3 separate regions of the Homo sapiens genome follow, and regions 1 and 2 are each linked to region 3. Evidence: fine-mapped QTL for protein levels in blood plasma. A gene starts in region 3. Each other region holds a variant in brackets. All regions are shown on one strand. Distances are between the middles of the regions. Region 1 overlaps KDR (kinase insert domain receptor). Region 2 overlaps KDR (kinase insert domain receptor). Region 3 holds the start of KDR (kinase insert domain receptor).

The links. PIP is the posterior inclusion probability: the model's chance that the variant is causal. Sun 2018 read protein levels with aptamers (SomaScan).
Region 1: its variant is fine-mapped to the plasma level of the KDR protein (Sun 2018, PIP 0.95). The variant lies in the coding sequence of KDR. If it changes the protein, the assay may bind it differently, which can mimic a change of level.
Region 2: its variant is fine-mapped to the plasma level of the KDR protein (Sun 2018, PIP 0.95). The variant lies in the coding sequence of KDR. If it changes the protein, the assay may bind it differently, which can mimic a change of level.

What each region holds. Positions count from the first base shown.
Region 1 is chr4:55,112,502-55,115,499 of GRCh38, reverse strand. It overlaps KDR (kinase insert domain receptor), which reads left to right. Exons shown (of 30, transcript NM_002253.4): 4 at 89-219; 5 at 458-626; 6 at 1,235-1,374; 7 at 2,019-2,196. Among named protein-coding and RNA genes, the nearest start is that of KDR, 12 kb to the left of the region's middle. The variant G/A (reference allele first, on the strand shown) is at 2,109.
Region 2 is chr4:55,096,390-55,108,499 of GRCh38, reverse strand. It overlaps KDR (kinase insert domain receptor), which reads left to right. Exons shown (of 30, transcript NM_002253.4): 10 at 607-763; 11 at 1,690-1,813; 12 at 2,560-2,668; 13 at 3,516-3,857; 14 at 5,992-6,138; 15 at 6,472-6,603; 16 at 9,697-9,803; 17 at 10,228-10,363; 18 at 10,734-10,838. Among named protein-coding and RNA genes, the nearest start is that of KDR, 23 kb to the left of the region's middle. The variant T/C (reference allele first, on the strand shown) is at 1,721.
Region 3 is chr4:55,124,502-55,136,706 of GRCh38, reverse strand. It overlaps KDR (kinase insert domain receptor), which reads left to right and starts at 11,112. Exons shown (of 30, transcript NM_002253.4): 1 at 11,112-11,480. The coding sequence starts at 11,414. RefSeq lists an enhancer at 3,432-4,045.

The DNA.
Region 1 (2,998 bases), 17 kb after region 3:
TGTCTGGTTAGAGTTTAGGAACCTGAAAAATGACCAACTTTTCTAGTAAATACTATTAACTCATTAATAAAACTAAATTTTCTTCTAGATTACAGATCTCCATTTATTGCTTCTGTTAGTGACCAACATGGAGTCGTGTACATTACTGAGAACAAAAACAAAACTGTGGTGATTCCATGTCTCGGGTCCATTTCAAATCTCAACGTGTCACTTTGTGCAGTAAGTTGCATCTCCTCCAATCGTCTCTTAAGTTTTTATAATTTTAAGCTAATATTAAGATGGGTAACCTGTTTATAATATTCACAATGAGTTTTAAGGATCCTTTAGGAAGGGTCAAATGCAATGAATAAAACTAATTAGTATTCTTAAAAATAAGATGAATTCTTCAGTGATCATTGTACATGGCTCTCATTTTTGGTACTGGATTAAATATTTGATATGTCTTTTTATTACCCAGAGATACCCAGAAAAGAGATTTGTTCCTGATGGTAACAGAATTTCCTGGGACAGCAAGAAGGGCTTTACTATTCCCAGCTACATGATCAGCTATGCTGGCATGGTCTTCTGTGAAGCAAAAATTAATGATGAAAGTTACCAGTCTATTATGTACATAGTTGTCGTTGTAGGTAAGAGGACATTTCCTTTCCATATCATTAATAACATATCCTTGTATTAAGATCTTGGAGATAACAACATAGAGTGAAGAAGGATATTGAAAAGTATAGGAACTCAGGATATGGTGTTGGGCAATTCATCTGCTCTTCTCTACCAAATAAACCCATGTGCAATTGAGGTTGTCTCTTTTCTTGCCAAGATTAAGGAAGAAAAAGAAAACTTTTTAAAAAAAGGATGAAAGCGAATGGTATTACTCGAGCACATTTTATGAAGAATTCAATGTTCAGAGCATTGCTTGCTATCAATTATTTCAATTATGACTATTTTATGGAAACTTCAGCAATTTGCTAAAGCTGGCCCTACTGGCCTAGGGCTACTGACCACTGAAAGTTTACTACTTTTCTGTCCACTGGGTTACAACATCTTTGAGATCTGTGAAGGTAGTGCTTTGTAAACCTCTGTTGGCCATTTTCCTGGGAGCTACCAAGTATTGGTGAGGCCTGCAGGGAAAAACAATGTGGCATGTTTTAAAGTTGCATTACTTTAAAAAATAAATCTGTGCAAAGTTATAGGCTTATTTGCTCTCTCATGTTCTGTTTTTTCAATTTACTTGCTCTAGGGTATAGGATTTATGATGTGGTTCTGAGTCCGTCTCATGGAATTGAACTATCTGTTGGAGAAAAGCTTGTCTTAAATTGTACAGCAAGAACTGAACTAAATGTGGGGATTGACTTCAACTGGGAATACCCTTCTTCGAAGGTAACGCTAATGATTCAAAGCCAGACCTCCAAATACTTAGATAATAAGCCCCAGTGAAGTTTGCTTGAGAGATAGGGGCCTCTTTGGCCAGATAAAATGTAAGAGCCTTAAACACACACACATACACACCCACTCACACACACATACACACACACACAATTTAAGGGAATTGCAGAACAGATAGCACCCACCAAAAGGTGAAATACCAGGAATTTTGTCCTATTCTGCAATAGCCAGGCTATGAATATTAGTTTTCTCTAGGTGATTACATCTTTCCACATTATGTCATTTCTCTGTTCTCCAAAGTTTTTGATCTACATTCCTTTTAAGGGAATTTCTCTTTAAGAGGTGGCATGAGATACACTGCTCCTTAAACAGTGGTCACATTTACTTGTGTTTCTGCAGTTTATATCCATCTCACTTTCACCACGTGAGGTTTTAAAAATCCTAATTCAGTTGGTTCCATTTATTTCTCCTGAAACAAAATATATTTGTTGTCTGCATGAGGTTAAAAGTTCTGGTGTCCCTGTTTTTAGCATTAAATAATGTTTACCAAAGCCCAGATTTAATTCTGTGTGTTACTAGAAGTTATTGGGTAATGTTATATGCTGTGCTTTGGAAGTTCAGTCAACTCTTTTTTTCAGCATCAGCATAAGAAACTTGTAAACCGAGACCTAAAAACCCAGTCTGGGAGTGAGATGAAGAAATTTTTGAGCACCTTAACTATAGATGGT[G/A]TAACCCGGAGTGACCAAGGATTGTACACCTGTGCAGCATCCAGTGGGCTGATGACCAAGAAGAACAGCACATTTGTCAGGGTCCATGGTAAGCTATGGTCTTGGAAATTATTCTGTGCCTTGACAAGTGAGATAATTTAAATAAATTTAGGTCACTTAGTGATTCCTATTTTGTTCATTCAGAAGATAGTTTCTAGTTTTTCTTGTTAGGGAGGCCACATGACCTAGAGGTCAAGAGCATAGCTTTGTAGTCAGGAACTTGGGTTCAAACCTCAACTTTAAAGATGAGATGTGCTGATATACAGTAAGAGTTCATTTAGTATTACTTATTATAGTTATTGCTGCTATTAGGATTGTTACTATGATAAATAGTATTAGCTAAGGTAGTTTTTAAATTTTCATTTTATTGCAAGGCTGAGAGGCCTACTTGAATAAGCATGAGCTTTGCAAACTGGGGAAACATTTAGCAATATACAGTTGACCTGTGAGCAACTCAGGGATTGGGGGAACTCAGGGGAGTTCCCCTAACTTTCCCTCCTCTGCAGTCAAAAATCCATGTATAGGCCGGGCGCGGTGGCTCACGCCTGTAATCCCAACACTTTGGGAGTCTGAGGTGGGTGGATCACCTGAGATCAGGAGTTCGAAACCAGCCTGGTCAACATGGTGGAACCCCATCTCTACTAAAAATCCAAAAAATTAGCCTGGTGTGGTGGTGGGAGCTTGTAATCCCAGCTACTCAGGAGGCTGAGGCAGGAGAATTGCTTGAACCCAGGAGGTGGAGGTTGCAGTGAGCCAAGATCGTGCCATTGTACCCCAGCCTGGGCAACAAGAGTGAAACTCCTTCTCAAAAAAAAAAAAAAAAAAAAAATCAAGGTATAACTTTTGACTTC
Region 2 (12,110 bases), 28 kb after region 3:
CGTATAAAGCTGTGGACAGTAATAGTGGTTGTGAGGATTAAGTGAATGAATTCATGCAAAGCACTTCAAACAATGCTTGGCACATAATAAATGTATTTACTGTGCTATTTCAGCTGTTTTCTGTAGCCTTTCCCTGATCTCCTAAACTTGAGAGGACAGAGAGAACTATCTCTGTAATACAGATGAGAGGCACAGGATTTCAACACTTCCATAAAGTCATTCAGCTTGTTAGTTTATTATTATTATTAGCTTATTGTCATTTTTATTTTATTTCGTTACTTTATTCCTTTTTTTTTTTTTTGGTAGAGATGGGGTCTCACCATGTGGCCCAGGCTGGTCTTGATCTCCTGGGCTTAAGCGATCCACCTACCTTGGCGTCCCAAAATACTGAGATTACAGGCATAAGCCCCCATGCCTGGCTAGTTGTTATTTTTATGAGTATCACTAGAACTCAGGTCTCTTGTTTCCACATCTAGGTGTTCTTCGAAAAAGAAAGTGGAAGCAAAATCATATGCTTAAAGAAAGTCAGCTTTAGTTGCTAAAATCCTCTATTTCCCATTCTTCAAAGCTGACTGACAATTCAAAAGTTGTTTTTCCCATCTTCAGTCCCACCCCAGATTGGTGAGAAATCTCTAATCTCTCCTGTGGATTCCTACCAGTACGGCACCACTCAAACGCTGACATGTACGGTCTATGCCATTCCTCCCCCGCATCACATCCACTGGTATTGGCAGTTGGAGGAAGAGTGCGCCAACGAGCCCAGGTGAGTAAGGCCACATGCTCTTTGCTTTCCTGCCATCTTGCATTTCTTACAGCTGAGCTATGATATGACTCCATCCTAAATGGAGAAGCCTAAACCAAAAAAAGTTTTCTCTCAAGAGGTAGCCTGAATCTCCATCCATCTTTCTCTGTGTCTTACATTTTAGGGGATGTCTTTGCTTGGAGTATCCTCCTTTGGGGTTAGCTAAGCTCAGCCTTGTTAGGTTAGCCGTGAGGTACACTTCTCCAAACACAGGCTATTTGCTCAGTTTGCTAATTGCCAGTCTTTGGTTTTTCTCCCGATACCAATCGGCTGGTGAATACCACATCCCTCCTTCTTGTGTGTGTGAAGATCCATCTCTCAGAGGAAATGCTGATAGATGAGAGGCAGTGATAGACCCAGCCCCAGTCCTCAGGGTCTCAGGCCCAGCTTATCATGCTCTGACACAAGTCCAGACATCCTTAGGGAAAAACACAACAACAGCAGCCAACCCACCACCACCCTAAGCAGTCCACTTCCTGTTGTTGTTTTTGAAATGGCCACTATGAGCTTCTTCCTCAGCTGCTGATCATTTCCTTCACAGAGACCATGGTCCCAGAGAAATTACTTTAAGGAGCCCAGTGGCTTCTAAGTTTCCTTGCCTTCCTTTGAACTAAATTAACTTGAATTGTCTTGTCGATCCAATTTATGAATGAAGGTTTATTCCCAGAATAGCTGCTTCCCTCCTGTATCCTGAATGAATCTACCTAGAACCTTTTCCTTCATTGTCAATGCCTATTTTTAATTGGCGCCAAGTCTTGTACCATGGTAGGCTGCGTTGGAAGTTATTTCTAAGAACAGAATAACCAAAGTCTGAATCTTTTCCTTACTCTTGACTCTAATTAAAGAAAAATTAAATCATAATATGCGCTGTTATCTCTTTCTTATAGCCAAGCTGTCTCAGTGACAAACCCATACCCT[T/C]GTGAAGAATGGAGAAGTGTGGAGGACTTCCAGGGAGGAAATAAAATTGAAGTTAATAAAAATCAATTTGCTCTAATTGAAGGAAAAAACAAAGTGAGTTTGAAGTTTTAAAATTTGAAAATCTCTCTCTCTTTAATGGAAGGATGGTACAATAATATGTGAGGCATATTGGAGATTAATAATCAAATAGTCTGGATGATTAAATAGAGCGTATTAAGTCACTTTGAAAATACCATTGACTTTTAGCAGTACCATTAACTTATTAATAGCTTATCAGAGAAAAATAAAAACATCTATGACATTAAATCTATGCATCTGTGTAGGGTGATTCTGATTTTATAAACATGAGAATGAAAAAATGTGTATCATATCATATTAAAACACATCATTAGTTTCATGGCTTCCAAAGCCCTTTTTATATAATGTGTGAGCTCCACAGCAGCATAATTATACAAATTGAGTAAATATCCCAAACCTAAAAACCCCAAATCCAAAATGCTCCAGATTCTGAACCTTTTTGAGTGCCGACATGGTGCTCAAAGGAAACGCTCGTTGGAGCATTTTGGATTTTCAGATTAGGGATGCTCAACTGGTAAGTATACAATGCAAATATTCCAAAATCCAAAAAAAAAAATCCAAAATCCAAACCACTTTTGGTCCCAAGCGTTTTGAGTAAGGGATACTCAACCTGCAATTGCATAAATTTGAGCGTGTCCAACCGCTGCAGAAGTGGGAATGGCATAGGCAGGTTGGAGTGATTGTGGAGACTGCTGGACTGAGTGCTTGTGCACAAACAGCCGCGTTGTTTATGGCCTGGGATTTGTTTTTTCCCCGCACAGACTGTAAGTACCCTTGTTATCCAAGCGGCAAATGTGTCAGCTTTGTACAAATGTGAAGCGGTCAACAAAGTCGGGAGAGGAGAGAGGGTGATCTCCTTCCACGTGACCAGTAAGTACTCTTCTCTGGAGGTTTGGGTTGGATCACTCACACAGTGGGTACTAAGCTATGTAATTCCCTGTTGTTTTTGCCATTCATGTGAGTGGCATGGCATTTAGGAAAGAGGACTTGGATTGATCATTGATGCTTTCATTCATAAATTACAACTTCTCAGGTATCTCCTGGGCTTATGTGAAGTCAGTGCGTCTAACTACACTGGAGAGAGAATGGTTTCACAGATGCTTTAAACCACAAGCTCTGTGTGGTATTTACATCTCAGTCTTCAGAGTCTGGCACAGTGCCTGGCTTATTGAGCTTCAGTACATATTGGTGGGCTTGCTGTGGAACAGTTGATGAGGGTGGGCTTTATGGAGGCAATCAGAAGGACATAGGAGCAGTGCCCTCCCAATGCTGCCGATTTTGCCTGTGCATCTTAGTTTTATGGATAAGCTTTAGCTGATTGTGCTGAATGGAATATTATAGCCAGGGCTAATTCATTGGCATAAATGTAGCTTTCATATCATTGAGTGTTAGTGTTAATGAAGACCTAATTTTAAAATTCTGTTAGAATTAGAGATTTTGCTTTGGATTTTTAATATATTAAACATTGCGTAGAGCTCATAGTGGAGATGTGGTAAATATCTGAGGAATTCGTTTACATTTTCAAGTAATGTGTTTGGCCAAATAAGATATTTTGGGACCTGAATTGTCTAGTTTGTTTGTCAAGTTGTAGTACATCACCTGGAACGGATAGAGCTTCATTTCTTTTGGTACTTTGTAGTAGTCTGAAAGCAGCAAGATGATAGTGAGCTGTACCAAGTTAAATCACCATTCAATAACTATGGCCTCTTCATTTTAGGGGGTCCTGAAATTACTTTGCAACCTGACATGCAGCCCACTGAGCAGGAGAGCGTGTCTTTGTGGTGCACTGCAGACAGATCTACGTTTGAGAACCTCACATGGTACAAGCTTGGCCCACAGCCTCTGCCAATCCATGTGGGAGAGTTGCCCACACCTGTTTGCAAGAACTTGGATACTCTTTGGAAATTGAATGCCACCATGTTCTCTAATAGCACAAATGACATTTTGATCATGGAGCTTAAGAATGCATCCTTGCAGGACCAAGGAGACTATGTCTGCCTTGCTCAAGACAGGAAGACCAAGAAAAGACATTGCGTGGTCAGGCAGCTCACAGTCCTAGGTAGGGAGACAATTCTGGATCATTGTGCAGAGGCAGTTGGAATGCCTTAAATGTAGTGCAATTCAGGTGCTATGCAAAGATTACTGTCCTCTAGGAGATTATGTTGTAAACTGGTGCACACTTCTTCACCGAAAGTCCTTGAGGAAGAAAGAAGCTAATAATAATGAAATGATATATCGAAAGGAGAAAATAACAAAACCTGATGATGGAGTAATTCACTAGTATATGCAAGGGATATTAGCTTGAACCAGGGAAACTTCTGCCTTATCTTGGGCATCCATTTATTTAAATAGACAAATATTTGTGGAATGCCTGCTATGAGCTAGGAGAGTGTCAGAAATTCACAGTGGTAAACATGAAGGAAAGGAGGAGAACATAGGCAACCACTGGGAAGTCACAGCACAGTGAGGTCTCTGTGTCCATGAGAACAGGAATTGTTCTCTGTTTTGCTCCCTGCTATAGCTCTAGTCATAGAGCATAGCAGCATATACTAACTGCTCAATAAGGCACCTGCTGCATGAAGAGTGGGATGATGGGCTGCGTTTAAGACCTAGAAGACTCCATGGGAAGGAAGCTACATTCACTGTCTGTACCTCTGGGTCATCCCACATGATCCAGCGTAGCCCAAGGTCAATGGGACGATCACTTCAGTGAGCAGATAGCTCTGTAAATTCCTCCATAGAGGCACTGTCTACCCCTTGTCTAACCTCATGCCTTGTGCAAAAGCTGGGCAGCCATGGCTTTGTCTGTGGGAAAATCAGGCAAATTTGGGGAGCGTCTCTTTGTGCCACTTCTCTCCATTTTCTCCTCTTGTGGTGTCCCTTTCCAATTCCTAGGATATATGTGCCCTCTGTTTTTTTTTTACTGTTAGGAAGGAAATTGCCCAAGTAAATTCATCTATACCACAGTTTTAGAGGGTAACGTCTTCATCAGAGGCCTTGGCGTATTTGAAGAGGCACCTTCTGACAGACACTAGCATAAAGTTCGCTAGTTTTAAGACTCAGGTGTCATAATAAGAGATACTTTGGGGTCAAGTCATCCCCAGCATCCTTCAAGTCACACCACATAGATCACATGGATTTTCTGTTGGCTTGTCTGGCTTCAAGGTTATGGCAGAATTGAGAAAGAGATGTGAAGTAGGCTCCTGGCCTAGCTGTGCCCAGAAAATATGTGCTCGCAGTTAGCTGCTTTGCTTCCCTAAGGACTCCTAACTTGTTTTCCTAAAACCTATTCTTAGAAATAGGCTAGAATCCAGTACATTTGCTTAGACTTCAATGTAGTACGCTGTTGAGGTAATCTCATTTTGCTAAGTGTTGACGTGGATTTTTTCAGCATGATTCCTTTTGATGTTCAGTTGGTTGGGACAAGATATTTCCACAGCACTTTGATGATCTGAAGAAAGAATAAATCTAAAGTGTTCTTGTACACTTAAACAAATACTCATGGGCTTCATTTTCTTTAAATCCAAGACTTCCCTTAGGGTATTGTTGTTTTGTTTGTGTTTTAGTGGAAATAGCACTGAACTGGTCTTTTAGCCTCACCAGATTCTGTAAACAGTTCAACTGTTTACTTAGTTGCAGGGACATGGACAAGTGGTTTAATGTCGCTGAACATCATTTATTTCATCTGTGAGATAACGCTAACAGTCCTATTCTGCTCATTACATAAGATCACTAGTGAGGAACACAAATTGTGTAAACAAGTTTTATAAGAATTGCCAAATAAATGTAAGGCATTATTGGTTGAATGATACTAAAATTTGGCACTTCCAAGAGAAATTTGAAGGGATTCTAGGGTATTATTGACTAGAATCTTCATGGGAGGGAAGTTTTCACCTGGGGAGGCTGTGTCTAATTAGAGGAAAAATCCATAAAGGTGACCCTGAACCTTTCTTTTGTGATGGGATTACCAGCTAGTATCACTAATATGAATGTTAAAAGCCATTAATCTGTTTGCAGTGTCCTGACTGACTTGTTTCATTTAACTTTACCCAGTGACCAGTGTATTTTCCCAGAAGTTAATATATCAACAAGTTCCTTTTTACTAAATTTAAACTGTTTAAAAGTTTGCTGATACCAGAACCATTTCAAAAGTTATAATTCCATGTTCTGTGATTTTCTTTTTGTGTGTCTAGAGCGTGTGGCACCCACGATCACAGGAAACCTGGAGAATCAGACGACAAGTATTGGGGAAAGCATCGAAGTCTCATGCACGGCATCTGGGAATCCCCCTCCACAGATCATGTGGTTTAAAGATAATGAGACCCTTGTAGAAGACTCAGGTAAATAGAATTTGGCTATCACTCTTGGGTTGCAGAACTTTCCCAGGGATGTTATCTAAAAAGCCATATTATTTCTTGATGTAATGTAGAAAAAAAGCAGTATTGGTGTCCATGACCTGGCTCATTTCACAGACTTAGAATTGGAGTATGGGGCCCTGTTGAATTTTCATGAAAGCCATATAGGAGATTAGTCAGCAGTAGATCCCATGTGACTCTACAGAGTTAGATAATAGAACAAGATGAAGGGCAGCATTTATATTTTCTAAATTTCCCTGAAAAACTTCACAGACTACATCATCATAAATGAGAATGATCGTTTTCTTCCTCTGTTAGGCATTGTATTGAAGGATGGGAACCGGAACCTCACTATCCGCAGAGTGAGGAAGGAGGACGAAGGCCTCTACACCTGCCAGGCATGCAGTGTTCTTGGCTGTGCAAAAGTGGAGGCATTTTTCATAATAGAAGGTCAGTGGGATAAAAAAAAATGTGGTACATATACACCATGGAATGCTATGCAGCCGTAAAAAGGAATCTGATCATGTCCTTTGCAGCTGCATGGATGGAGCTGGAAGCCATTATCCTCAGCAAACTAACACAGGAACAGAAAACCAAACGCCACACATTCTCACTTATAAGTGGGAGCTGAACAATGTGAACACATAGACACAGGGAAGGGAACAACACACACTGGGGCCTACTGTGGGTTGGGGAGAAGGAGAGCATCAGGAAAAATAGCTAATGCATGCTGGGCTTAATACCTAGGAGATGGATTAATAGGTGCAGCAAATCACCATGGCACATGTTTACCTGTGTAACAAACCTGAGCATTCTGCACATGTATCCCGGAACTTAAAAGAAAAAAAGAAGGTCAGTGGGAAGTCATAGATACATCCTGTGGTTTTTGAAGATTAGTTTGTATCTTATAGACACACATTCACTTTGAATAGGGCAACGACAGATGATTTTTAATATTCTTTGTACTTTGTAAATTTTCTCAGTGAGTATGTATTCTTTTAACCAGCAAACATAATTAATGTTGTTATAATTCTGCTTGCATCACATTTCCTATTCCTGCAGTTCTTATTGTGGAAAAATTCTTAATCAGGCAGGATGAATAGCCTCTTCTCCCTGATTCTGTCTTTGTTTGAATGGCTTGATTAACTTATAGAAATGATGCCTTTATATTTATTTGGAAAAACATTAGAATTGCTGCCTAATCATGGCAGTCAATGCTATCCAGATAGTCACAAGGATTCCGAGTTTTAATTGGACTAGAGATAATTAAGATTCACTTGTGAACAATAGACCATTGCTCTTCTGACATGGAAAATTTTTGGTTTTTATCTCAATACGTGTGTATGCAGAAGTGATGTGAAATCTGTCATTTTCTTAGCTAGGAAAAGTAATTTGTGGCAGAATATTTTATCTTAAGAAGTATATTCCTATGGCTTTTTTTTTTATAGCCCACCAGGGAAAGAATAAAACTGTGTTGTGGGGTAAAAGAATGGTATGCAAGGGTAAGAAAGAAGTATGGTGATAGAAGGGATCGATGGATTTCTATGAACTCATCCTAACTTGTCTCTCAAAGTCTAGATTTTGGTCCCTTTACTCTGCCAAATCTATGATGCCAAGTATTGCATCGAGATATGTTGACATATTTTCAAATGTATAAGCTTATTAGCATTTCATAAACTACACTTGCAAATAAAGATTTCAAAGACCATGGCGGTTTTGTCATTTCCAAAGTGATTCATGTTTTAGGGCAAATCCGCAGAATGACGTCTAGATTGTCTCTGATGCTCTGCATTACCTCTTGTTGGTGGCCTGCAGCTGGTTACAGATGCCTAACTAGGTAACACTGGCACAGAGATTATAGTTACTTCTTACCTGGAGTGAATGCTAAGAAAGGCAGAGCTAGATATTTAATACTCCTGCTGGGTTCCCAAATGTTATGCGAGAATATTAATATACAAACACATAGAAAACAGACTCTTTGAACTTTTTATCCTCTATGTTCAACTGGACTTTTAAATCTGTGTGTATAAATAGAGAATTACTTCCCTAGGACCACCAGAGAAACAAAATTTACTCCAAGCATAATTGTGCTTGTCTCTCAATGGTTAAGTTAACTTTTATTTTGCAAACCAATTTGTTACTTATTTTGCAAACCAGTTTCTTACTTGTCTTCTTCTCTCTTGAGGCCGTAGTGGGCCATCCGCACAGCTTGTGGCCCGGTTTGATTCTCCTTGCACTCTTCTGATGGGAGGCCCCAAGTGATGACTGCTTCCTTATCATCTCTTTGCTAATCACTCTTAGTGGAAAGCCTGTTTCTGTATTTTGTTTCTTCCACTCAGAGCTGTCCTCTGAAGCCCTGAGCATCTGCAGCTTTGCTTGCTGACTTCTAGTTTCCTCTTCTCTTTCCTTTCATGAGTGATTTGAAACTCCCATTACCAGGCCATGCGTGATGTGCTCATCTTGGCTCTTCCTCTTCTCCTCACTCAGACTCCTGCCACAAGGGATGGGGTAGTGTATGTAATGGTTAGTTCATGTTGGACAGGCCTCTTTATCTCTTGACTGAACCACTGACTAGCTGTGTGCCCTCAGTCAAGTAGCTTAAGCTCTCTGGTCTTCTGTTTCTTCATCTGAAAACTGAGAGTTGTTGAGGAGATTAAGTGGAATGGCATATTTAAAGTGATGAGTGCATAGTAGATACATGGTCATTAGTAACTCTCAGGTCAAAAAATTTTGTTTATTTCCCTACTTGGTTTCTTATGTGATCCTTTTGCAAACTCTGCACAGATCAAAATATTGACTATCAGTTTAAAAGAAGACTTTTGTTTTCCTCAAATAGAAATATTTTTTTTTCTCTGTAGAGAATGATCTGTTTTCTTTCCATCAAAGACTGCTCTTCCTCTAAACACTTTCTATGTTTGGCTTTTAAGACATTACTACTTCTATGCTTAATTACTTAAGAATTTTATTGTTGTAAGTTTACATGAGCAATGTTTTGCAAGCTTTAAATTTTCCATTAACAATTCTGTAGGCCAGGTGTGGTGGCTTATGCCTGTAATCCCTGCACTTTGGGAGGCCAAGGCAGGGGGGATGGCTAGAGGCCAGGAGTTCGAGACTAGCCTGGGCAATGTAGTGAGACCCTGTCTCTACAGAAAATAAAAGAAAAATTAGCTGGGCTTGGTGGTATGCACCTGTAGTCCCAGCTACTCGGGAGGCTGAGGGGGGAGAATCGCTTGAGCCTAGGAATTGGAGGCTGCAATAAGCTATGATTGTGTCATGGTACTCCAGCCTGGAACATAGAAAGAAACCCTGTCTCTAAAAATAAATAAATAAATAAATAAATAAATAAATAAATAAATAAATAAATTAAATTCAAAAAAAGAATTCTGTAGACTCCATTCAAGTTACGGGTGTGTAACTGTTGTCCTCTAGGATTTTTCCAAGTTGGTAAGCTTGGGATTTTGCTTTAGTGCTAAAATTTGTCATCTTACAAACAAAAAGTATAAGTTTCCAACTGTTGATACTCATTCAATTGTGTCTTTCCAGGTGCCCAGGAAAAGACGAACTTGGAAATCATTATTCTAGTAGGCACGGCGGTGATTGCCATGTTCTTCTGGCTACTTCTTGTCATCATCCTACGGACCGTTAAGCGGGTAAAAAAATAATTTCCCTTCTGCCCATGCACATTGGTTTTCATGATTAATGAAAACTGACTGGGGTTCTTTGAGTTGTTTCTTCCCATTGTTATTGGCTCAATGGGCACATTTTTATTTCAATACAATAACGTTCCTGCCCACTTTCTTTTGGCTGGATCTCAGGGATTTAATTGATAGAAGCCACTAGAGAGGAAAAGGGCTTGGACTGTCTAGTGTAATTAAGCTTTAAAACCTTAATTCTGAGCTCCTTTGGGGGACAAGGGAAACTAGAAGCAGGGTTATAATAGGACCACTCTCAAACTCCATGAGTTTTATTGGAAAATGAGACAGGAATGAGGCTCCAATAAACAGCAATAACAAGCACACAAAACAACAGCCAAACAACAGTGTGTTTATGACTGGAAGGATTGATGCTTTCCAGGCCAATGGAGGGGAACTGAAGACAGGCTACTTGTCCATCGTCATGGATCCAGATGAACTCCCATTGGATGAACATTGTGAACGACTGCCTTATGATGCCAGCAAATGGGAATTCCCCAGAGACCGGCTGAAGCTAGGTGCATTTTCAATTGCTATTAATTTGATATTGTGTTTACCAGGCCATCTCTTCCTCCATTAGAATGATGACAAATGTGGTGTATTCAGATGTTGGATTCTGGTTTAGAAATATTAATTCCATTTCTTGAATTTGTATAATCATTCATATAGCCACTTAGAGGTAGGGTCCCTATGTAATCATCCAAAGCAGGACATTTGGAGAGTGAAGGGGGAGTTATTAAATAATTAAGCCAGGACAAAGGAGTAAACTGGACTATCCATGTTAAATTGGGATGTATGGTCACCCTATCTAGTTGATGTCTCTGCGTATCACTTTGGTTGTATAGTAATCCAAGTCTGTTTTCTTGTTGCTGTTGTTGTTGACTCTAGGTAAGCCTCTTGGCCGTGGTGCCTTTGGCCAAGTGATTGAAGCAGATGCCTTTGGAATTGACAAGACAGCAACTTGCAGGACAGTAGCAGTCAAAATGTTGAAAGGTAAAAGCAAAATTATGTGGTGATCTATCTTTCTGTTTTATCTAGTCTTTAAATATGTTGCAAGGCTTGTATCAGTAGCTTTGTGCTTATGTGGGCCTACTAGCCACACATGCAGTCAGCCTAAATAATGCCCTTGTGCAAATTGGAAAAAGGATCCTCCTTTGTAGCTTTATGCCAGGATGCATGGTCTGGCAAGCAAAGTTGGGAATGGCTTTCACCTTCTTGCCTGGTTACCCTCGTGCAGGGCTCAGCCAACACAGTTGTACTTAGTGGTTCTGGGTACAGGGAAAAAGGACTGTGGTTATATTAAAATTGTTTCTTAATATATTGTGGAATCAGATAATTATAGACCATCTAGAGACATGGAAAGGAAGATAGTGAAATACAAAAATAGCATGTTCTCCAGAATTGGAATATGTAAAAGATGTTCATATGTAAAAGATAATTTGCAAAACAAGAATGGTTGTGTTAGAAAAAAATATAATGGGTTATATTTTTTAAATTAAAAGCTTTATAAATAATTGTTAATTCTAATAGTAACGGAATTCTGGTCTGGCCATTTTCATTTTAGGAGGTTAGACAGTAAAGCTTCTTTCTTCAATTGTGATGTTCTTTCATTGATGAAGGCAGTGCCAATGACCCTTTGCCAATAGGTTTTGTGCATTTCAAAGCTATCTTTCTCCATCTGCCTTTTTTCTCTTGTGGCCAAGGGAGTGTGTAATTTTGAGGTGGCTCATCAGAGCCTTAGATGTGGACCATGCCTGTGAATTAGTGGGAAGTGTAGCAGTCCATACAGGATCAAACACATAGTCTTAGTGCCATCAGCCTCATGTGCCAACTGGTCTTTCCAGCTGGCCTTAATTCGCCTGCACAGATCGGCACAGATTGGCTGGAACATTCGGTATAGCCCCTAACACGTGAAGATATTTAATACATGGTGTTGCTTCCTTATGAGGAAGTGCTGAAATGATCAGACCCTCAGAATCATAGTGAACCTGAAATGCAAAAATCCAGTTTTGCAGAAGAAGAGAATCTGGGCATGATTCCACTGCAGATGTATTCTCCGCTTTGCAAAAGGTTTCACAATGGGTTCCTTTAAATATCAAACTTTCTGGCTCACTTAAAATATGAATTTTATTTCAAATTAGAAAATAGAATTTACACTTCACTTTTGAGGAAATGCATGTGGTCTGTAAACTAGGTCACAGCTGTGTTACCCCGGAGGGTAAGTTGTATAGTGGCATGCAGGGAGGGAGGGACCCCAATTATTGA
Region 3 (12,205 bases):
ATGCAGAAAAAACTATTTCAGAAGAAGAATGAAAATCTTGTCATCAATTATTTGGAAGTTTAGAGTAAACGATTATGTAAGCCACACTAAACTTGTCTTTCATCTTACAATATAATGAGAGAGACAGACACACATACTCAAATAAACCTGTTATAAGGCATGATATCCTTTATGTCACAACAGATATTCTTGGACCGTGGGGAATATAATTGTCATTGATTAGCTGTCTCTTTAACATCCATTTCCCCCTGCTTCCTAGAAAAATATTTAGAATTTTTTGAGTAATAGTCCCTTTTCTATTTTAATTATGTAGTTTGGTGTTATTGAGCCTATTCTTAATTGCAAAGGTGGACTCTGACATAGGCTATCAGATCCTTCCTGCTTCTGGTAATTGGTTTAGGGATAAGGCAATGAGATTTAAGATGTGCTTAGGTCAAAGGATCAAAGGATCTTCCCTTTTATTTCTCAAGAGACACTGTCTTTCTGTGGACAGTGTGGGGTGAGAATGTGTAGTCATGTTTTTTTTTTCTATTATGAGGACAGCCTGAAGGCAGAATTGAGAAAATCACAGAGAAAAACAGCAGGATGACACAATGAGACTCTGGAAAAAACTGTCTGAAGCCAGCCCATAACTTACAACAACATGATCCTATACATTCAGGCCAAATTGAGTTGGTTTTCCTGTTTCTTACAACTTAAGGAATCCTTACTCTTGCAGGCATGGAGAGAGTAAGTCAGATGGGGAGATGGGAATGAGTAGGGATTGCAGAGACTTCCTGGGGCCTCTTTTTAAAGAGGGGCCAACTACGTATGGGCAGATATTGGAATAAAGCACATTCAAGGCATACAGTAAGCAAGAGACAAAAAAGTGTAATGCATTTTCTGGAGGTGGCCACTGAAATCTAGAAAGTTGGACTAAGAGTATGTCCACGGTATACCGGGAGGTAAGTTGTATAAATAGGAAGCAGCAAAGAACAAAACCCTTAAATACAAGGCTTGGGATTTGGGGCTTTATGCTATGTACAGAGGTCAACTGTCCAAGGTGAAGGACAGATGAACTTTGTGTTTTAGGAAGATAACTTTGGCAGCAGAGTGATGAGTGGACTGGAATATTCCAGGAAAAAGGCAAACTGGTCACGAGTCAGGGCAGTCTGATGAATGAAAATAGGAGATGGATATGAGGGAAGTAAAGAATGTAGACAAAATTGGATTTGAGAGGAAAAGAAAAGGCAGGGGGATATCATGGAATGTAGTATAAGCATCTAGAGGGACTTCGAGCTTAAGAAGGCTGAAGGAGGCAGGGTGGGTATAAACAGACAAAGAATTCAGTTTTTGGCACTTTGAATTTAAGAAATTGGTGGAACATACACAGAGATGTCCAGGAAGAATTAGAGATTAGAGGCTGGAGCTAGGGTAGAAAATCAGAGTTGGAGAGCACAATTTTTCAAGTTTTCTCCATAAGGAAGATAGTCAAAGGCAAAAGAGGAAATACAATTCCTGAGAAAGTCATGGAAGAGTACAAGGGATGGTGACCAAGAATGGATTTGGCGATCCCTATGTTTAGGGTTGAGCAAAGGAATGTCAGCCAGTGAAGGGCATTGGCTGGTAGGTAGGAGTGTACCCATGAATGTTTCAAGCTTCAACAAAGACGGAAGTTCAAGAAGAGGGTGGACAATGGGATGTCTGTTGTGGAGATGCTGGGCAGAGTCAAGAGTAAGAAGTTATTGTACATGAGGAGAGAAGGTGAGGGATGTCCTTTTATCTTTCAAGAACTCGTTTGAAGGAAAGGTCAAAGTACTAGACTACTAAGTAGCTTCAGGGAGCAGCAAGGTCAAGTTTTCTTAGGATAAGGAAATAGAAGCATTTTTCTATATATCCAAAGACCATTTTAATGTGGAATATTTTTGATGTGGTGCTTTGTTACTAGAATCATTTTCTCCACAGCTGGATCTTTTATTTATATTATGTGATCAGATGCATGAAATGACTCCCTTACAGCCTTTCATCTGCCTATGACCAGCCTGACCAATTATTGGATGATTATCAATTAGATCTAAAGTTGTATTTTTCATTTTATTTTGAAATTTCTCTCTTTGTGAGGCATTCCTTGCGGAGATTTTTTTTTAATTAAGTGAAGCAAGGCAGTGATATATTAGAAATGAACGTTCAGAAACACTGCTCAAAGAAAAAAATTTTATTTATGCCTCCAGGGACTATTCACCAATGTTTTGGAAACTCTGGAGACTAAATTTATATACAAAGAACATAAAACTTTTCTGCTGTCATTGACTTGCTCTCAACACTGGTGAAGTGGCATTACCAGGAAACATTATTTTTAGTCTCTAAAAATGTGAACAGTATTGCAAACTAATTCAACTAACCTGGAAGTGTATACATTCTTCTTATATGGGAATGGTAATCTGTAGCACTTCTCTGGGAACCAAAAGTATATTTTTGCACTATTCAGTTCTTTGAAAACTTGATAGGCTTAAAGGGGGAGGATGGTATTAATTCACTGGAAAATGGTTACGAGTCTGCAAATGACACAGATGCAACATTTCAATCACACGTTTCTTGTATAGTACATGCAAATCTTGTAAATGCTTTATTTCTTTTTCTTCATTGTACTCAAAATCAAAAACAAAAATCTTCAATCCCCACTGCTTAATAAATTAAGAACTAACTCTTTCACTCCGTTGTGTCTATGTTGACATTGTATGGTTCCATTTATTCCCACAAGTTGCTCTCTGTAAAGACATTTGCAATGAATAGTCAAGAGGCATGTGATTCTGGAAAAATAAAAAGCAAAGGAGGAACAAATAGCAGCAGAAATGGAAATAACAAAAATAACTTGGACATCATTATTGTGTTTAGAGGTGAATATGCACAGGGACTGTGTTAGGCACGGAGAATACAAAATCAATGTGACCTAATCCCTGATTTGAGGGAGAAATATTTGAATAAATATGTGATTATGCTATCAGATGTTGCATAAGTGCTATGTGCGTACAGGAAAAGGAAAATAATTTCCTAGTTCTGTGAATAACAAAATAGTCCACATTAATTTGTCAATGATCAAGTATAAATTCAGCATAACTGGATATATTTATTAAATGGATGACTATTATCTAAATTTGAATTTAAGAATAATCATATAAAGTACATTTTATATAGCTAGCACATATAACATTAACCCAAGTATCTTTACAATAGCTTTATTTAATTAGACATAACACAATAAGTCTATAGTATACAAAATAGATTTTATTAATAGGCACCATCATCATGTCCTTAACCGTTTTTATTAGACCTTACCAACTATCCTTCCAAACTTAACTACTTGCTCAGGTAAGATTTACCTTTGCCTATTTCTCCTAGAAGAGTCTGAATTGAAGCAGACAGCTGAATAAAAAAACAAAACATATCACTTGGGACAGATATTTGCACTGGGTATGGAAGGTATGTCCAGGAGGACAAATGACAAAAATTCATGGTAGAAAAGAAATGCCCCAAATGCGCAAGTGATTATTTGTATAGAAGCAACTGCTCCTTTTTTTTGTTTTTTTTTTTGTTGTTTTTTTTTTTGAAGAGAAGATCTGTGGTTTGGGGGTTGGGTGGAAGGTAAATATTCAATGCGGCTGGGATTCTGCAGGTGGGGAGGGCAAGATCTAATTACCTGCTTTGCATTCTTCCTTGGTCAGCCATCTCAGAGTGCCTCTTCTAAGTCACTTAGCTTTTCATGCATCTAGGAAAATGGAAGCTATTGTTATGGAGAGGCAGAGGAAGTCAGTGGCATCAATTCACTTAGCCTCATGCCTTGAATGAGATTAGTCCTCAAAAAAACAAAAAACCAAAAACAAAAAGCTATTTGTATGTGCTAGGAGGGGTCTGTTTTGGGTGCTTAATACTGCTCTGCTTTTAAGTCCTGATTCCACCACTTACAGTTATGGGACATTGGAAAAGTTACTTAAACTTTCTAAACCTCGGCCGGGCGCGGTGGCTCACGCCTGTAATCCCAGCACTTTGGGAGGCCGAGGCGGGTGGATCATGAGGTCAGGAGATCGAGACCATCCTGGCTAACAAGGTGAAACCCCGTCTCTACTAAAAATACAAAAAATTAGCCGGGCGCGGTGGCGGGCGCCTGTAGTCCCAGCTACTCGGGAGGCTGAGGCAGGAGAATGGCGTGAACCCGGGAAGCGGAGCTTGCAGTGAGCCGAGATTGCGCCACTGCAGTCCGCAGTCCGGCCTGGGCGACAGAGCGAGACTCCGTCTCAAAAAAAAAAAAAAAAAAAAAAAAAAAAAAAAACTTTCTAAACCTCATTTTCCCATCTCCCTTAAATGGGAATAATTATAGTATCTTTTCTATTGAGTTATTATGTGCATTAAATAAGATAATCCAAGGAAAATACCTGACACATAGTAACTGCTCCAAAAATCTACCCCTTCTTTTTATTGTTATTGAAAAAAGCAAAGAATGCCCTGTTTTTTTTTTTTACCATATTCCTAATTATTGATGAAAAAACTTCATTGATTATTTACAAAGAGATATAACAACTTTTTTTTTGGGCAAGACTTTTAGGAAGGCAAAGGGACATTTACTTAAATTAAGAATAAATATTTTTTCTCTTTACTTCTTTTCTTTCTAAGGAATACTAATAGTGCTTGCCACCTCATGGGATGTTATGAGGATGAAATGAGAAATAAAGTACTCAGAACAGAGCCTGCTCAAATGATGTGCTCAAAAAGTGTTAGCTCTTAATATTTTTTAGCACCCTTCTCTGGTGCTGTGTGGACTTTCAGTTGGTTATTTAAATTCTTTGCATATTTTACACATTTAAAAATTATTGTATCTATTCTCATGTGAGATATTCCAAGAAATTATACGGGAGAGTTTGGGACTGGAACATAGTTATACGTGTTTATAGTAACTGAGATTTTTTTCCTTTGCAGGGAGCAAGTAATCAAGTTCTCTTTAATCTCTTTCACTAAAAGGATGGAGAGTTTGCTTTATATTTACTAGAATATAAGGCTTTGTGAATAAAATTGAACACTGTTGGACACATTCAAGGCAGGCCTGGCTTTGTGGTGACATAGCCTTCTTTTTCTTGAACATACAAATATAGCTTAAGTTAAATGAATAAATCTCACAAGGAGTAAAATAAACTTAGATGTTTAAAGAAGGTAGATAATGAGAAACAAAGGGTATGCTCATGATCTCCCAAGTCGCAATAGTTGTAAGTATGGATGGGCTGTGAAACTGAGCCAACATCTGGTGAGGTAGTCATAGGCTCTGGTAAGTTGAAAATAAATGAACATGGAAAGAAAAATACAGTAAACATGACAAAGTTGTCAATGCAAACATGTAATCAATAAATGGTCATATTTAAAAATATAACAGCCCCTAGAAAAGAGAGTTGATGTCTTTTATAATATTTTTTATTTGTAAAAGTAATACTTTCTTGGTTTGAAAAAAATTATAGAAATATATGAAGCAAAAAGTACATGTTCTCATCCCTCTGCCTCTGTGCCTCAATCATTTCCCCAAGGTAGGTATTTTTTTGGTGTGTACCCTTCTAGATATTTTCTGCAAAATTTTCTATTATGCATGTATGTCTCCATGTATCTCTTCTCTATATCTATATCTATATCTCAAAGAAATATAGAAAATACTATCTTTTTTTTTAGTCAGTGTGTCACTCTGTCACCCAGGGTGGAATGCTGTGGTGCAATCATAGCTCACTGCAGCCTCAGCCTCCTGGCATCAAGCAATCCTCCTGCCTCAGCCTCCTAAACTGCTGGGATTACAGGCATGAGCCACCATACCTGGCCAGGAAATATTTTTGAACAGCTGATGTTCTTAGGCGATGAAGGTATGTGTGGAAGACACCTGATGAAAGGCCTTGGTAACAAGTACTTTAAGGAAGAAAATTAAACATCTATTGAATCCTTATTACCACCATCACCATTTTACACTTTATAGAGCACTTCCATGAGATGATCTCATCTGAGTCTCGTAACAGTCCTTAAGGTAGGTAAGAATTATTATTTTCATTGACAAATGATGAAGCTGCTGCCTGAAATGATTAAAAGATAATGCTCAAGGACATTCCAAATCCTTATTTTCACCAAATCAAGGAAAAGACAATGGAAAAGTTAGTGTTGTATTGGCCTGGGCATCCCTTTGATTACAGTCATTTAAAACAGATTTTTTTTTTTTTAATCATGGAAACTTTCAAACACGTAAAAGTAGAGAGAATAGTCAAATGAATCTTTAAGTACCACTGTTCAACTTCCACAGTTATTTTTTTTAATTTTTTTAAAATTATACTTTAAGTTCTAGGTTTAATGTGCAGGTTTGTTACATATGTATATATGTGCCATGTTGGTGTGCTGTACCCATTAACTCGTCATTTACATTAGGTATATCCCCTACTGCTATCCCTCCCCCCTCCCCCCACCCCACAACAGGCCCAGGAGTGTGATGTTCCCCTTCCTGTGTCCATGTGTTCTCATTGTTCAGTTCCCACCTATGAGTGAGAACATGTGGTGTTTGGTTTTTTGTCCTTGCGATAGTTTGCTGAGAATGATGGTTTCCAGCTTCATCCATGTCCCTACAAAAGACATGAACTCATCCTTTTTTATGGCTGCATAGTATTCCATGGTGTATATGTGCCACATTTTCTTAATCCAGTCTATCATTGATGGATATTTGGGTTGGTTCCAAGTCTTTGCTATTGTGAATAGTGCCGCAATAAACATACATGTGCATGTGTCTTTATAGCAGCATGATTTATAATCCTTTGGGTATATACCCAGTAATGGGATGGCTGGGTCAAATGGTATTTCTAGTTTAGATCCCTGAGGAATTGCCACACTGTCTTCCACAATGGTTGAACTAGTTTACAGTCCCACCAACAGTGTGAAAGTGTTCCTATTTCTCCACATGCTCTCTAGCACCTGTTGTTTCCTGACTTTTTAATGATTGCCATTCTAACTGGTGTGAGATGCTATCTCATTGTGGTTTTGATTTGCATTTCTCTGATGACCAGTGATGATGAGCATTTTCTCATGTGTCTGTTGGCTGCATAAATGTCTTCTTTTGAGAAGTGTCTGTTCATGTCCTTTGCCCACTTTTTGATGCGATTGTTTGTTTTTTTCTTGTAAATTTGTTTGAGTTCTTTGCAGATTCTGGATATTAGCCCTTTGTCAGATGAGTAGATTGCAAAAATTTTCTCCCATTCTGTAGGTTGTCTGTTCACTCTGATGGTAGTTTCTTTTGCTGTGCAGAAGCTCTTTAGTTTAATGAGATCCCATTTGTCAATTTTGGCTTTTGTTGCCATTGCTTTTGGTGTTTTAGTCATGAAGTCCTTGCCCATGCCTATGTCCTGAATGGTATTGCCTAGGTTTTCTTCTAGGGTTTTTATGGTTTTAGGTCTGACATTTAAGTCTTTAATCCATCTTGAATTAATTTTTGTATAAGGTGTAAGGAAGGGATCCAGTTTCAGCTTTCTACATATGGCTAGCCAGTTTTCCCAGCACCATTTATTAAATAGGGAATCCTTTCCCCATTGCTTGTTTCTGTCAGGTTTGTTGAAGATCAGATGGTTGTAGATGTGTGGTATTATTTCTGAGGGTTCTGTTCTGTTCCATTGGTCTATATCTCTGTTTTGGTACCAGTACCATGCTGTTTTGGTTACTGTAGCCTTGTAGTATAGTTTGAAGTCAGGTAGCATGATGCCTCCAGCTTTGTTCTTTTGGCTTAGATTTGTCTTGGCAATTCAGGCTCTTTTTTGGTTCCATATGAACTTTAAAGTAGTTTTTTCCAATTCTGTGAAGAAAGTCATTGGTAGCTTGATGGGGATGGTATTGAATCTACAAATTACCTTGGGCAGTATGGCCATTTTCACGATATTGATTCTTCCTATCCATGAACATGGAATGTTCTTCCATTTGTTTGTGTCCTCTTTTATTTCATTGAGCAATGGTTTGTAGTTCTTCTTGAAGAGGTCCTTCACATCCCCTGTAAGTTGGATTCCTGGGTATTTTATTCTCTTTGAAGCAATTGAACTTCCACAGTTATTAACCTTTGACAAATCTTCATATAACTTGTTAAGACATGGAGTCCAAAATACTGTTGGTAATGTAACCAAATTTGGAGATCATGGAGAGTAATTTATGCAGTGTGCTTTGAGTATGAACAATGTATATTCTGTATGTACAAGCCCAGAAAAGTAGCTGGAGACAAGAAGTGCTTAAAGATTAAATTAAATTTGTCTTGGGTGAGGCTATTACAATGATTCCTCATTTAAGCTCATCTTGACATTATTTTCACCATCGTAACCCCAGTTCCTGGTTCAATGCCTAGCATATAGTAGGTGCTCAAAAACTGTTGAATGAATGAGCCTGCTTAGCAGTTTAGATCTCAGCAGCATGAAGAAGCCCATGCATTGTAGTATAAGCAACCTTTGCAGAATGTTTCTTAATGTGTATCTGGTGCTTTCTATGTCCAAGATCTTTACTAGCTGTGTTGGGGCCTACTCCAAGTGCCTTACATGCAGTAACTCCTTTAATTCTTGTAAGAACCCTATGAAGAAGGTACTATTATAATTTTTTTTGTGTTTCATAGATAAGTTACTTGTAAGTTGGTAAAGATCACACAGATCATAAGCGGTAGATCTGGGAATAAAATCCAGAGTCTGTGCACTTAGCTACTACTCTGCTGTGGCATCTGAATAGCATCTATGGAACACTCAACACATTTGGGGCACTTTGCTAGGTGCCTTACTGTTGGGTTAACTCACAAAAGTCACTCCTTTGCAATGCCAGATAACGAGAGGGTGCTGCACATGGAACAGCCTTTCTTTCTTTCTTTTCTATCTTTTTTTTTTTTAACAGACTTTGCCATTTTTTTTGTGAACCTAAGGCACTTCTAAGTGCTGTGTGGGAGGGAATGTGGTAGACTGATTTCATTGAGACTCTGCCAAATTCTGGTCTTGCGGCCATCAAAGACGCATCATTTCCTCCAAGACTTCTAAAGGGGGCTATTACCACGGGCCTGCAGGTTCTGGTTTGCATTCAGAGGAGACACTATCTTCTTAAATGAGACATGGAAGAGGAAGTGTCATGAACTGTAAATAAGGCTGATAGGGAATTGTTTGGTGATGGGGATGGAGAAAAACTGCCCTCTCCAAACCAGGTTCCATCTCCCACCCCTTTATCCAACTTTGCCAGAGTCCATCCTATTTTATTTGCTGAGTTTACTAGCAGGAAGAGAGGAGTTTCTTTAAAGATTCTCTCCCCTCCCCAAATAAATACCTCCCAGATAAATATGAGTACATCTATATAGTAGAGCACTATGCCAACATTGAAAAGATGGAAGGATGGAGCTTTGTTCGCAGCCAGCTTAGGCAACATAGTGAGACCCTGCCTCTATATAAAAATAAATAAATAAATAAATAAATAAATAAATAAATAAAAGATGGAGCTTTAAAGGTTGATGTAGAACGAATCTCCAGTGTATATTATAAAGTGAAGGCTGGGCAGGGTGGCTCGTGCTTGTAATCCCAGCACTTTGGGAGACTGAGGCAGGAGGATGGACTGAGTCCAGGCATTGGAGACCAGCCTGGGCAACATAGTGAGACCTTGTCTCAAATAAATAAATCAAATTTAAAGGGAAAAAAGCCAAGGCTCAAATAGCATTTATACCAAGCAATTGTGGGAAGAGAAGGGTGACATGTCTACATACTTGTGTTTAAGAATCTGCTTGGAAAAAAAAGGAAACATAAAAATGCCTCTGCCAAAAGAAAAGTCTTTTCACTCTAAGCCTTTTTGTGTTTTTCCAAAATTTTTTTTTGCCATATACATTCATTATATTTCAGCATTAAAATATTTCACCTGTCAACTTGGAAAAGTAAAAGCGTGAATACAGTAAATATTTAAAAACAGATGAAGATAAGTAACAGGTTACATTAATTGTATACAATCAATCTAGTTTGAATTAGGTGTAGATATAATAATTCTGTGTGTTTATCTTGGTGAAGAATGGTCCTTTAGGTTGTCATTAAAAAGCACCTCTGGGAGGTAAAAGACATAGGCATCTGGAAGATTCATATTTAATGAAGTTAGGGGACATTTGATGTCACTCCCCAGGTGTGGGGAGATATGGACAGAAAACCAGAAGGAACGAATGTGGTCAGGAAGGAATTGGAGTTCCCCTCCAAACAGCTGCCACAAGAAGTCCACACACGTGGAGACAGTTGTGCAATTTGGTCACAGAGTGTCCTAGGTGCTTTTGCTTCATTGCTCCTCCACTGAAGCACGCTGGCAGCTGGCCTCCTTCCCCTGGGACTAAGGATATCTTGGCTGGAAGCTCTGCTCTGAAAAGGGGCATGGCCAAACTTTCACTAGGGCTCTTCGTTGGGGAGCACGATGGACAAAAGCCTTCTTGGGGCTAGGCAGGTCACTTCAAACTTGGAGCCGCCAAATATTTTGGGAAATAGCGGGAATGTTGGCGAACTGGGCAAGTGCGTTTTCTGATTAAGAGCAACCAGATTCAGCTTTTTAAACTACAATTATACTGGCCAAACAAAATACCCTTATACAAAAACCAAAACTACTGGCAGGAGTCGCTGCCAGCTTGCGACCCGGCATACTTGGCTGAGTATCCGCTTCTCCCTTGTGGCTCCAAACTGCTGCAGATTCTCGGCCACTTCAGACGCGCGCGATGGCGAAGAGGGTCCTGCACTTTGACGCGCCTGGTGAGGGAGCGCTGCTCTTCGCAGCGCTCCTGGTGATGCTCCCCAAATTTCGGGGACCGGCAAGCGATTAAATCTTGGAGTTGCTCAGCGCCCGTTACCGAGTACTTTTTATTTACACCAGAAACAAAGTTGTTGCTCTGGGATGTTCTCTCCTGGGCGACTTGGGGCCCAGCGCAGTCCAGTTGTGTGGGGAAATGGGGAGATGTAAATGGGCTTGGGGAGCTGGAGATCGCCGCCGGGTACCCGGGTGAGGGGCGGGGCTGGCCGCACGGGAGAGCCCCTCCTCCGCTCCGGCCCCGCCCCGCATGGCCCCGCCTCCGCGCTCTAGAGTTTCGGCACCAGCTCCCACCCTGCACTGAGTCCCGGGACCCCGGGAGAGCGGTCAATGTGTGGTCGCTGCGTTTCCTCTGCCTGCGCCGGGCATCACTTGCGCGCCGCAGAAAGTCCGTCTGGCAGCCTGGATATCCTCTCCTACCGGCACCCGCAGACGCCCCTGCAGCCGCGGTCGGCGCCCGGGCTCCCTAGCCCTGTGCGCTCAACTGTCCTGCGCTGCGGGGTGCCGCGAGTTCCACCTCCGCGCCTCCTTCTCTAGACAGGCGCTGGGAGAAAGAACCGGCTCCCGAGTTCTGGGCATTTCGCCCGGCTCGAGGTGCAGGATGCAGAGCAAGGTGCTGCTGGCCGTCGCCCTGTGGCTCTGCGTGGAGACCCGGGCCGCCTCTGTGGGTAAGGAGCCCACTCTGGAGGAGGAAGGCAGACAGGTCGGGTGAGGGCGGAGAGGACCTGAAAGCCAGATCTAACTCGGAATCGTAGAGCTGGAGAGTTGGACAGGACTTGACATTTTGCGATCTTTCATTTACCAGTGGGGAAACTGAGGCTCAGAGACTGGCCCAAGATTACCCAGCGAGTCTGTGGTCGCCTGTGCTCTAGCCCAGTTCCTTTTCTAGGACTCTGGTTTGCGACAGGGACCTCGGCTGGAGCATGTCCTGAGATGCCGACACACCCTCAGGCTCTTGGGAGGCTGGGGTGGGAAGGCGCCTGGGGTTGGCAGGCAGGAGGTGCCTCCGCAGGCGAGAACAGGCGGTGAAAAGTTGTCTGGCTGCGCGCAACATCCTAGTCCGGGCCCGGGGAAGAAAACCTTGCCGGAATCTCAGGCCGGGTCTCCCGGATCGGACGGTACACTCGGTTCTGCCTCTTTGCGGGACCCGGCCCGTTGTTGTCTTCATGCTCGAACACACTTGCACACCACTGTGTGAAGTGGGGTCTGGAGCGGAGAGAAACTTTTTTTCCTTCCTTGGTGCAGGACGCCGCTCTCCTTGCAGAGCGAAGAAGGGGGGGAATAGGGACTTGTCCTGGGGGCTTTGACAGCTTCCCCAAGGGTCTCCAAGTAACAGCCAACTGTCCTGCGTAAAGCATTGCACATCTTTCAAAGCGCTGTGGTCCTTGGTGTA